Homo sapiens: one gene and its partners. The protein of the gene in region 3 purifies or fractionates together with the protein of the main gene of each other region. This does not show direct contact. Each region holds a gene or a part of one and is shown on either strand. Other genes may lie near its edges.

What was found.
Region 1: the proteins of ETFBKMT (region 3) and HSPD1 purify together in Homo sapiens (affinity purification with mass spectrometry; 4 studies listed by BioGRID and IntAct, with this or other methods). This does not show direct contact.
Region 2: the proteins of ETFBKMT (region 3) and CLPX purify together in Homo sapiens (affinity purification with mass spectrometry; 2 studies listed by BioGRID and IntAct, with this or other methods). This does not show direct contact.

What each region holds. Positions count from the first base shown.
Region 1 is NC_000002.12:197,486,218-197,489,970, forward strand, and holds the end of HSPD1 (60 kDa heat shock protein, mitochondrial), read right to left. Parts: intron 3,031-3,753; coding exon 2,785-3,030; intron 2,275-2,784; coding exon 2,100-2,274; intron 1,820-2,099; coding exon 1,641-1,819; intron 982-1,640; coding exon 829-981; 3' UTR 367-828; downstream 1-366. UniProt on the Homo sapiens protein: Chaperonin implicated in mitochondrial protein import and macromolecular assembly. Together with Hsp10, facilitates the correct folding of imported proteins.
Region 2 is NC_000015.10:65,157,743-65,161,495, forward strand, and holds part of CLPX (ATP-dependent clpX-like chaperone, mitochondrial precursor), read right to left. Parts: intron 1,010-3,753; coding exon 833-1,009; intron 169-832; coding exon 4-168; intron 1-3. UniProt on the Homo sapiens protein: ATP-dependent chaperone that functions as an unfoldase.
Region 3 is NC_000012.12:31,657,709-31,661,461, reverse strand, and holds the start of ETFBKMT (electron transfer flavoprotein beta subunit lysine methyltransferase), read right to left. Parts: upstream 1,775-3,753; 5' UTR 1,673-1,774; exon of another isoform or gene 479-1,672; intron 1-478. UniProt on the Homo sapiens protein: Protein-lysine methyltransferase that selectively trimethylates the flavoprotein ETFB in mitochondria. Thereby, may negatively regulate the function of ETFB in electron transfer from Acyl-CoA dehydrogenases to the main respiratory chain.

The DNA of each region.
Region 1 (3,753 bases), on a different chromosome or scaffold from region 3:
TCAAGTGACTGACTTTTCATGTGATGATGGACTTTATTTCTCCCCTCTACTTCTGTCCAAGGTAAGGACAGCAAAAATATTTGCCTCAATGCCTTGCTTGCAGCAGCAGCCCAAAGGCCATGCTGAGGAGCTGGAGTTCCCTCCAACCTCCCAGATTTTACAGCTCCAAGAGAGATTACATCCTTGCACCGGGGAAAATAGAAACTGTCTTTCCCCATTATCAATGGAATAATGTAGTTCAGTCTGCAACAAAGAGAAACATGAAAATATCATAGATAGGATAATGTTTTACACACATGCCAGCCTGCCCTTCAACTGGCTTTCAATTTTCAGTATCTTCTAATCATGGAAATGCTAACACAATTATTAACTTTAAACAAATTTTTATTACACAAAGGTTGTCACATAATTGGATACTTCTCTACTTTGTACACAATTATTCTCACTCTCCACAGAAAGGCTGCTTAACTTCTCATCTGGTGGTGGCAAGCACTAAAATCCTGATTTTAACAGAATAGTAGTAAAAATGCCTCAGTGATTTAAGTTGAAAGCAGTACACTGGTACATGGCTCTTGTACCCAGTATCAGGAATGTACAAATGTTTTTTATTCAAAAATACAAAATAAATTATCTGTAGGCATGGACAATGACAGCAGTAAACCATTATATATTTTGTCAACTGAAACCAGTAACTGATGGTTATAGTGATTTTCAGCCAGCCTTTTTCTTCATTTTCTCCAACTGACTTCTCTGAAGTTATTGGTGAGGAACACTGCCTTGGGCTTCCTGTCACAGTTCATTAATAAAGGTAAAGCACTAGTCTAGGAGTTAGAACATGCCACCTCCCATACCACCTCCCATTCCACCCATTGCACCCATTCCAGGGTCCTTCTCTTCTTTAGGAATTTCTGTGACTACAACTTCTGCTGTAGTTAACAGAGAGGCCACACCAGCAGCATCCAATAAAGCAGTTCTCACAACCTAGAAAAAAATTTAATTAATTAGTTTTCCCTTAGTAAAATATGAGCAAGACTTATTGAAAATTTCTGTCTGGGCATGGTGGCTCACACCTGTAATCCAGCACTTTGGGAGGCTGAGGCAGGTAGATGACTTGAGGTTAGGAGTTCAAGACCAGCCTGGCCAACATGATGAGACCCCGTCTCTACTAAAAATACAAAAATTAGCCAGGCATGGTGGTGCATGCCTGTAATCCCAGCTACTCAGGAGCCTGAGGCAGGAGAATCGCTTGAACCCAGGAGGTGGAGGTTGTCACTGCCTGCACTCCAGCCTGGGCGACACAGCGACTCTGTCTTCAAAACAAAACAAAACCCTGTTCTGCGTATCTTGGAAAGTATTCTTACTGCCAGGCAGGAACAGGGTGTTCCAGATCCATCCTGATTTTTTCCTGCCTCCAGGCATGGACTCAACTGCTACTCAAGGGATCCTGCTTCCTTTTAGTGGAGTATTAAATATCTAGGTGCTGGAAATGTACATGAGAATTGTTGATGGGCACAAGAGCTATTGCTGTTGCTACTGCTATTAGACTATTTTTCTGGTGACAAAATCAAAGATTTGGGATGTGAGGATACATTAACAAAATGAACAACAAAAGAATTTTTAGAAAGTGTTCAACCATTTACCTTTGTTGGGTCAATGATTCCTTTTTCCACCATATTCACAAAATCTCCAGCCATAGCATCATAACCAACTTCTGAGGAACTTTGCATAATTTTCTCAACTATCAAAGATCCTTCAACACCTGCATTCTTAGCAATGGTCATTGCTGGAATTTTGAGTGTTCTTTTAATAATTTCTATACCTACAGAGAAATTTCAGCAAAATTTTAATACTTTCATTTGTAAATATTGTAACACATTTATAAGTTGTGAGGATATTGATGTAGGGAAATCCCAATCCTACTACAGATCAAATCATTTCCTCTGAAAAAGATGTGATGCATGTTTAGCTCTGACATTAGCACTATTCTACTTCTGTTATTCAGGAAATGAATGTGCTATTCCATTTAGGGGACTGCAACATTATTATTCTAAGAAAAACTAAAATCAGGCCACAAACTCATTTAAAAGGTAACTTTTTACCAATTTTTTGATCTTCATTAGCTGGAGTCAATGAGTCCAAGGCTGGAATGCATCGAAGGAGGGCACAACCCCCTCCCAAAACAATGCCTTCTTCAACAGCAGCTCTTGTAGCATTAAGGGCATCTGTAACTCTGTCTTTCTTTTCATTCACTTCAACATCACTTGTCCCACCAACCTAAAGACGAAAAGAATTCCAGTTAGTATGGCCTCTTCATTCAAGATGCTAATTGCCAAGTCATTTAAAAGCAGTTTACTTAAAAAGCAATCCTGAGGTGGGCGTGGTGGCTCACACCTGTAATCCTAGCACTTTGGGAGGCTGAGGTGAGTGGATCACTTGAGGTCAGGAGTTTGAGACCAGCCTGACCAACATGGTGAAGCCCTGTCTCCACTAAAAATACAAAATTAGCCAGGCATGGTGGCAAGTGCCTGTAATCCCAGCTACTCGGGAGGCCAAGGCAGGAGATTCGCTTGAACCCAAGAGGCGGAGGTTGCAGTGCGCCGAGATCGCACCACTGCATCCCAGCCTGGGTGACGAAGAGCTCAAAACAAAACAAACAAAATTCCACTATGAAGTTAATTCCTCAAGTATTCGTTTAGTTCTATGGTACTACTGGGGAATACTACAGAAGCAAAATCATTCTTGGACTCAGAACCCAAGAAACTTATTCATAATAATGAATGTTACCTTCAGCACAGCCACTCCATCTGAAAGTTTTGCAAGCCGTTCATTCAGTTTTTCCTTTTCATATTCACTAGTTGTGACATCTAACTGCTCAATGATTTCTTGAATACGTTTTTCAATTTGAGCCTTGTCACCTTTTCCTTTTAAGAGCATGGCATCGTCTTTGGTCACAATGACCTCTCCAACTTTTCCTAAGTCATGAGGCTGAACGTCTTCAAGATTCAGGGTCAATCCCTCTTCTCCAAACACCTACAAAAAGAGTTAAACGTAAACCTGTTGTAGGTTACAGTTTCTGCCATTATACCAAGTTTATTAATACACCATGCAAGAGAATCATCAAAATACTTTATTTCTTTGAAATGAGAGATTTTAAGATCACTGTTAGTCCAGAACAAGACTTGAGTATAGTCTCTTTCACTGCATTTCCAAATTCTCAATTCTCACAACTGTGGTAATTATTACCAGCCTTACTTGAGAAAAAAACATCGAAGGTCACACTTACTGGTAGAGCCAGGACAAGACCATAGGCCTTGACTCTCAAGTCCTACATCCCTTGTAGCATACACTTCTACCTTTCAAAACTGAGCTCGGTAGCTCATGCCTGTAATCCCAGGACTTTGGGAGGCGGAGGCAGGCATATTGCTTGAGTCCAGAAGTTTGAGAAGCCTAGGCAATACAGTGAGACCCGTCATTACTAAAAGTAAAAAAATTAGCTGGGCATGGTACTGCACCTGTAGTCCCAGCTACTTGGGAGGCTGAGACGGGAGGATTGCTTGAACCCAGAAGGTGGAGGTTGCAGTAAGCCAAGATCGTGCCACTGCATTCCAGCCTGGGTGACAGATCAAGACACCCTGTCTCAAAAAAAAAAAGAAACCCCACAGATTTAAGTCAATAAGAATAGTCAATATAGATCAAGTCAAGAATAGTCAAGACAGATCAAGACACTGTCTCCAAAAAAAACAAAAAAAAGGA
Region 2 (3,753 bases), on a different chromosome or scaffold from region 3:
TACCTTGTTGTGCTTTTTCCACATTATAATTGGCATCTTGGAGTAGTTTTGCAATCACAGATTCAATATCTTCGCCTACATATCCAGCCTGAGTCAAAGTTGTACAGTCACAGATAGCAAAAGGGACATCAAGGCATTTAGCTAGGGTTTGTGCCAGCAGAGTTTTACCTACAAATAGAAACAGTCACTAAAAGTTTACTGAAAATATATTGGCACACAATTTTTCAATAAAAATGCAAAATAAATTTTAGTAGTATATAATAAAAAGTTGTCAATTGCTACATCCTTCCTCTGCTATTATTTTTTTTAGAGACAGGTTCTTGCTCTGTCACCCAGGCTGGAGTGCAGCCTGTGATCATGGCTCACTCCAGCCTCAATCTCCTGGGCTTAAGTGATCCTCCTGCCTCAGCCTCAGGACTACAGGCATGTGCTACCACGCCCAACTAATACTTTATTTTTTATAGAGATAGAGTCTTGCTCTGTTGCCTAGGCTGGTCTCAAACTCTTGGCCTCAAGTGATCCTCCCACCTTTGTCTCCCAAAATGCTGGGATTACAGGTGTGAGCCACTACATCCGATCTATTATTATTTAGATATAGCTGTTTTTTATTTTATTATTCCTGTGAAGATGTTAGGGATTGGCCTGAAGGGCAACACCAATGCCTCAAATCCAGTTTGTATTCTATGCAGGAATACTGATAGTGTATCTAGATGACTGGCCTTAGATTTTCTTCTCAAGAGCCGTAATACTTCAATCGCAAGATACAGGTTATAGAATCATTTATATTCTGATTTTTAAAATGAGTAGTAAATTTTCTCAGCAAGTTATTTACCTGACCCAGTTGGTCCAAGCAGCAAAATATTACTTTTTTCAAGTTTTATGTCATCATGAGAAGAATCCAATACTTCACCTCCTCGTTTTTCCTGAGGTATTTGTTGATTTACCTGTTGCTGCATTGATGCTCCTAAAGCATTACCATGTGGGCTAATTCCAGCAATCTGAAGCAATTCTGAAAAAAATGCCAAAGGAATTACTTGAGCTTCATTTGAATTTACTTGAAGAAAATGTCCCATAAAAACTTTTATCTAAAACTAAATATCGACATAGAAAAATTTAAGTATTTTGACATTCTGTCTTACCTACAAAGGAGAAAAATCTCAAATTATCTAGTGACAAACATATAGCACACAATGATTATATAAAGAACCTCAAGCAAAGGAAATTGATTTTTTTTACTGTCCTTATTTATATAAATATGTAAGAATACTCCTTTACCCAAGGGAAGGCAATACAACAGAAGAGCAGAGCCAGGAGTTAGAAAGCTTTAGCTCTGGACCTTCCTTTGTCTCTAAGTAGAAGCTACATGATCTAGGGCAAGTCATATAAACTTTATGTTCCTGTTTCCTAATCAATAAAATCTACTAGAGAAACCAAATATGATACACCTTACTATCTCTGGCCCTATCTAAATCTCTAATTTTATTGGACCTGTACTGGATCTTTCTATTTCCTTTATTAGAGACATAACACTTAACTAGATGTGACTGACATTGCTAATGACTAGATGGGACTGACATTGCTAGTGAGGTTATCAGTTTATCAGCCAGATTCCTACAAAAATAAATCTTTAGGCTAGGCATGGTGGCTCACCTGAGGTCAGGAGTTTGAGAACAGCCTGGCCAACACGGTGAAACCCCATCTCTACTAAAAATAAAAAATTAGCCAGATGTGATGGCACGCGCCTATAGTCCCAGCTACTTGGGAGGCCGAGGCAGGAGAATTGCTTGAACCCGGGAGGCGGGGGTTGCAGTGAGCCAAGATCACGCCACTGCACTCCAGCCTGGGCAACAGAGTAAGACTCTGTCTCAAAAAAATAAAATTAAAATAAAATAAAACAAAACAAAATAAAAATGAAATAAATAAATCTTTATTCTCACTTTCTCTTGGCTGAAGGAAAGATTATCCAGATTTGTAAATATTCAGATTGTTCTTGGTTCTTAGCATTTGAGTACCTGTTATCACAACATACTTGTTTATATTTCCTGAATTTATTTTTACATTTTCTTTTCTTTTTTTTTTTTTTATTTTGAGACAGAGTCTCTCTCTGTTGTCCAGGCTGGAGTGCAGTGGTGCAATCTCAGCTCACTGCAACCTCCGCCTCCTGGGTTCAAGTGATTCTCCTGCCTCAGCATCCCGAGTAGTTGGGATTACAGGCACACGCCACCACACCTGGCTAATTTTTGTATTATTAGTAGAGACGGGGTTTTGCCATGTTGCCCAGGCTGGTCTTGAACTGCTGACTTCAGGTGATCCACCCGCCTCAGCCTCCCCAAGTACTGGGATTACAGGCATGAGACACCGCGCCTGGCCTAAATTTTATTTTCTAAGAAATTGATTCAGAAAATCAGACTTTCCAATGATTATTTTAATTAAACTGATAGAATAATAGTTTGGCAGACATATCTATTATCATAGTCCTATTCCATCTGGCTGTCACTTTCAAACTATCTTCATACTTAAGGTAAAGGGTTATTCTATTCATCAAAAACAATAAGCATTCCATAAACATCTGGATTAAATTGTGCTACCTTTGAGGGTTAATAATTAGTGAATAATTCACAATGTTGTGCCTCATTATAATCCACATCAGCCAAGAAAACTCAGTCTGCTGTATGAGGATAGTTAAATTGTCACTAGCAAAGTACTTTTTAAAATTTCAGCAAAATCTGGTTAGGGATTGTGATAACATAGGAAGGGGCTTGGGTTAAGTTTAGCTCTGCCCAAAGGGAAAAAATGATTTAGATGTAGCTTCAGATCAGCAAGGCCAGCAGGTGCTTGTCATTCACTCATTCTCTCTCTCTCTCTCTCTCTCTCTCTCTCTCACACACACACACACACACACACACACACACACACGATTTAGATGAATAAATGAACAAAATTGCAAGGGGCATATTAATTACAGTGGAACCACATAATCTATGTATTTAACTTATTTAATGATTTAAGTTTAAAAAAGAAATAATTTAAATGATACAGATGATATCCATCATCCCATTTTATGAGTATATGCCTTAGAACAAACTTGAGACAACTCTCCGATTCTTTCAGTTAGTCCCTGTTTGTGCATCTCTCACTGTGTAAGCACAGCTCTCTAAAATGAGGACCATGAGCAAGCAGGCTAGTGTAGTAGTTAGCTGCACAGAGCTCACCAGCTGTGTGGCCACGGACAAATTACTTAAAATTTCTGTGTTTCAGTTTTCTTACTTCTAAAATGGAGATAAAAATAATAGTTTCTGTCTCATGGGTTTAGGGGAGATTAAATGAATATATGCAAAACACTTAGAACAATACCTGGCAGATAGTTTTATAAGTGTTACAGAAGAATCTGGTATTATTATTACCATTTCCCTAGTGTTTAATTATTCACACAACACAGCCCTTAAACGCAAACAAAGTATTTCATCTGGTGCTCAACTTAAAAAACAACATTATATTCCAAAGATGGAGAAAAAAAGCCAATTGTGTCAGTCCTCCTAAAAGCTGTATGTTGGTCTCTAAAATTTGACTTCCAAAGGGACTTATAAGAATTAATCTTATTGTACATGATTTTGGTCTAAAACCCTAGACCAGTGTTAGGGTCTAACACCCCCAGCCAGTGTTAGTTAACAACCTAACTTTAGAACTTAAAATCCCATGTAAAACACAACAAAACTGCACATGACAATAAATTTAAGCTTTTGAAATATTTGT
Region 3 (3,753 bases):
TGTATATTACTGTATCTGATGATTCACATGTGCAAGTTCATTTCAGATGAAAGCTTTGGTGCATCAATTGGGAAAATCCAATCTTTTTAAATGATACTTTTCACAAGAGAATCCTTTTAGTAATTTAACACAACAAATATACAAGCATTTGATTTTGAAAGAATCCTCAAGAAAATGCCTCTTACAGGAAATCAGCCATACAGTCATCCTTCAGTATCCTCAAGTGATTGGTTCCGGTATCCCCTGCTTCCAGGATACCACAATCAGAGGATACTCAAGTCCCTTATATAAAATGGCATCATATTTGTATATAAACTAGGCATATGCTGTGGTATACTTTACTTTAAATCATCTCTGGATGACTCATAATACTTAATACAACGTAAATGCTATATAAGTAGTTGTTACACTATTTTTGTGTTATTTTTATTGTTGTAATTTTATATTGCTATATTGTTATATTGTGGGCCAACTGTACCTTTAAAGTTCTTTCATAAATTTAACAAAGTAGGCATGCTTGGTAACTGTGAACAAAATAACAGAAGTCTTCTGTCTTCAGGAAGCTTATATTCTAGTGGTGGGATAAAGCAGTTAACAGGGCAAACACAGTTTTTGCCTTTATGAAGTCTAGCCAAGAGTTCTGGGGGTTAATGAATTTATAATTGTCTGTGGGCAGAGATATATTAATACAAATTATATTGACTACTCTATTTCATTAAAGATTGTTGTATCATAAAACAATGCAATCAAGATTCAGGTTTTTTCCTTTAAAAATACTGTATGCATTTAATTGTAATAAAAGAACATCAACTCCTAAATCTCTTTCTGTAAAAGTATCTGATGGTTCGATTTTACCAAGCCTAAACTGAAAAGATTTGCTCCAACAGAAAAACACCTGTGCAATTGATCACTAAGATTTGTTTAAAAATATATATATATAGAAAAACACCCGGATTAGAATAAATGAGAATGAGGAACAACTTAAACACAACTTATACACCCAGTTGTTTGGGGACCTCGGATCTCTTCTGCATAAATGTTTTAAATGGTCTTAAATCCACTAAAGTATTTAGGGGTCAAAAATCCAAATCCCCACAAGGGGCTGGACATCATAAATGAGTGATGCAGGCTGGCTGTAAAATAACAGAGGGGCTGTGGCAAGCTGGAGACTGTTTTCAAACAGTTCAAAAAGGCTAGGCAGGACATGCTGCCAGATCCTCCGATTTCTCAAAATCATCAAAAAAATCTAGATATTGACACATTAGCTTCCACCTTTTTTTTTTTTTTTTTTTTTTTTTTTGAGACAGAGTCTCTGTTGCCCAGGCTGGAGTGCAGTGGCGTGATCTCGGCTCACTGCAACCTCCGACTCCCAGGTTCAAGCGATTCTCCTACCTCAGCCTCCCGAGTCCTGGGATTACAGGGGCGTGCCACCACGCCCGGCTAATTTTTGTATTTTTTTTTTTTTTTTTTTTTTTAGTAGAGACGAGGTTTCGCCATGTTGGCCAGACTGGTCTGGAACTCCTGACCTGAAGCGATCCTCCTGCCTCGACCTCCCAAAGTGCTGGGATTACAGGCGCGAGCCACCACGCCCGGCCAGCTTCGGCTTGTAAACATCAGCAACTCATTCAAATATCAAAACACAGGGCAGGTCAAAATGCATGTCAGGTCATACATAGCCTGTGAACTCAGCGTAGACTTCCAGTGGGTGTTAGTTACCCCACATCAGTGTCCTGGGATCGTAGGGGTCTCTCAGGGCCTGGTATCCCACTAGACTAATTGTTAAGCAGTACTAGGCTGTCACTTGAATCACACAACGCAGCCTAAGTTTAAAGGTAACGCAGAGCAAATAGAGATTATTTGGGATTTGGACCCCATGTCATTTAGATCGGCGCTTCCCTCTCCCGTCCCAGCACCGATGAGGCATGGGTTATGAAGTATGTGACTGTGGTGACCACTTGGTATTTCTCTTAATGAGAAGGAGAGCTGATGGGATGAAAAGAGTTACGTTCCACAACGGGTAGACGGCGGCGTCATTTTCCTCCAGAGGCGGGGTGGAGTCGATCTTAAAGGGGCAGGCACCGTCCTCCCTGTCTCCTTACCTAGCTTTGCTGACACCGCCCTCGGAAGTAAAGCATAGGGCTCGCCTGTCACTCGCCCTGGCGACTGTTCCCGCTCATGCTTTACATTTCCGGGGTCCCGCTACCAAAACTGAGCCACGCTCTAGCAGAGCGCCGCGGCCCGGCAGGGGGCGGGACGGACGGCGGCCCCTCGCGGCCCCGCCCTTTTTCCCAGCAGCGCTTTCTTTCTCCTCCACTTTCTTAAAGGGACAGAAGCGCGAAACCAAAGGGCGCCCTGACCTCACCTGGAAAATAAGGGAACGTTAAATCTGTGTGCAATGTTTGTAGAATTTTGATTCCTAAAAAGTTCATTCTGAAACTATGCAACACCTACTATGTGCCAGTCGCACTTCCAGGCACCGGGCATAGAGTGGTGAGCAAAATAGACACCGTATATTTAAAAAAAAAAAAAAAAAAAGACACAGTATAAGCCCTCTGTGCTGCCTACATTCAACTGCGATTAAATCATAATGAATGTCCTTTCTTTTCTAATAATTCATAAATTCACTAGCAATTTATTTGCAGCCTATATCACTCGAGTCTGGATCTACATATATCCACCTTTCAACTGGACCCACATCCCACTGGCCCCTCAACTCAACACTCAAAGTTAACTCACCATCTGACCTGACAACAATTAAAACCTGCTCTGGCGTGCTAGAGGGGGGAAAACGGTCCAAAACTAAGAAACAGGAAAATCGTGTTTCTGCATTTTAGTTTGCAGTTTGAGAAATGCACTGGCACCTGCCTGTTCAAAATTAGAATTTGTCGCTTGGGTTCTGCGCTCCTGCCATGGGTGTGACAGCTTTCTGTCTTTCCATGTAAACTGGAATCTTTAGGAACTACTACAAGGAAAGGAAACTTTGTGCTTCCAGTCAACAGCCCCAGATGCAGCCTTATCATTTCTTTCTTAGTTGAATGGTGTATTTGCTACATTCTTGTTGATAAGCTATACACCTTGCATTTCACAGTATTCTGCCTTAGATTTCCTGTGTAATAACTGATATAATGTGTTTATGAACTGCATTCATCCACTTATGAGCTGCTTTTTTCTTAATTAGTTGCTGATGTAAACGCTTGTTTTCTCAACTATAACTTTTCATTACCACACACTCTCCGATTCTCCTGCTAGCAGTGAACCTTGATCCATGTTCAAGATCAATTTCTATAAGAAATATTGTTTTTAACCAGCTTCGGTGTTCTATCCCAATTAATAGTTTGAACATCCCAGTCACTGCCCAAGAAACCAGAACGAACAGGCTAACCTAACATTTTTACAAAAGAGGGTTGGTTCCTGGAAAAAAGCTTGGTAGTCATCACTGAAGATGCATTTAATAATGTTTGGATAACTCATTCAAAACTTGCAACTTGGCTGAAGGGACTGCAACATGCCTTTCCTGTCCCATAATGGATTTAAAACTGGTCCAGTTCTTTCTATCCCTCCTGCCATTGCCTTAGTTTGGCATTATAATGGCTTGCCTGGGTTCCTATAACTTGTCTATCTCTAATTCTGCCTTCCTTAAAACTATTCTTTTTTTTTTTTTTTTTTTTTTGAGATGAAGTCTTGCTCTGTCGCCCAGGCTGGAGTGCAGTGGCATGATCTCGGCTCATTGTAACCTCTGCCTCCTGGGTTCAA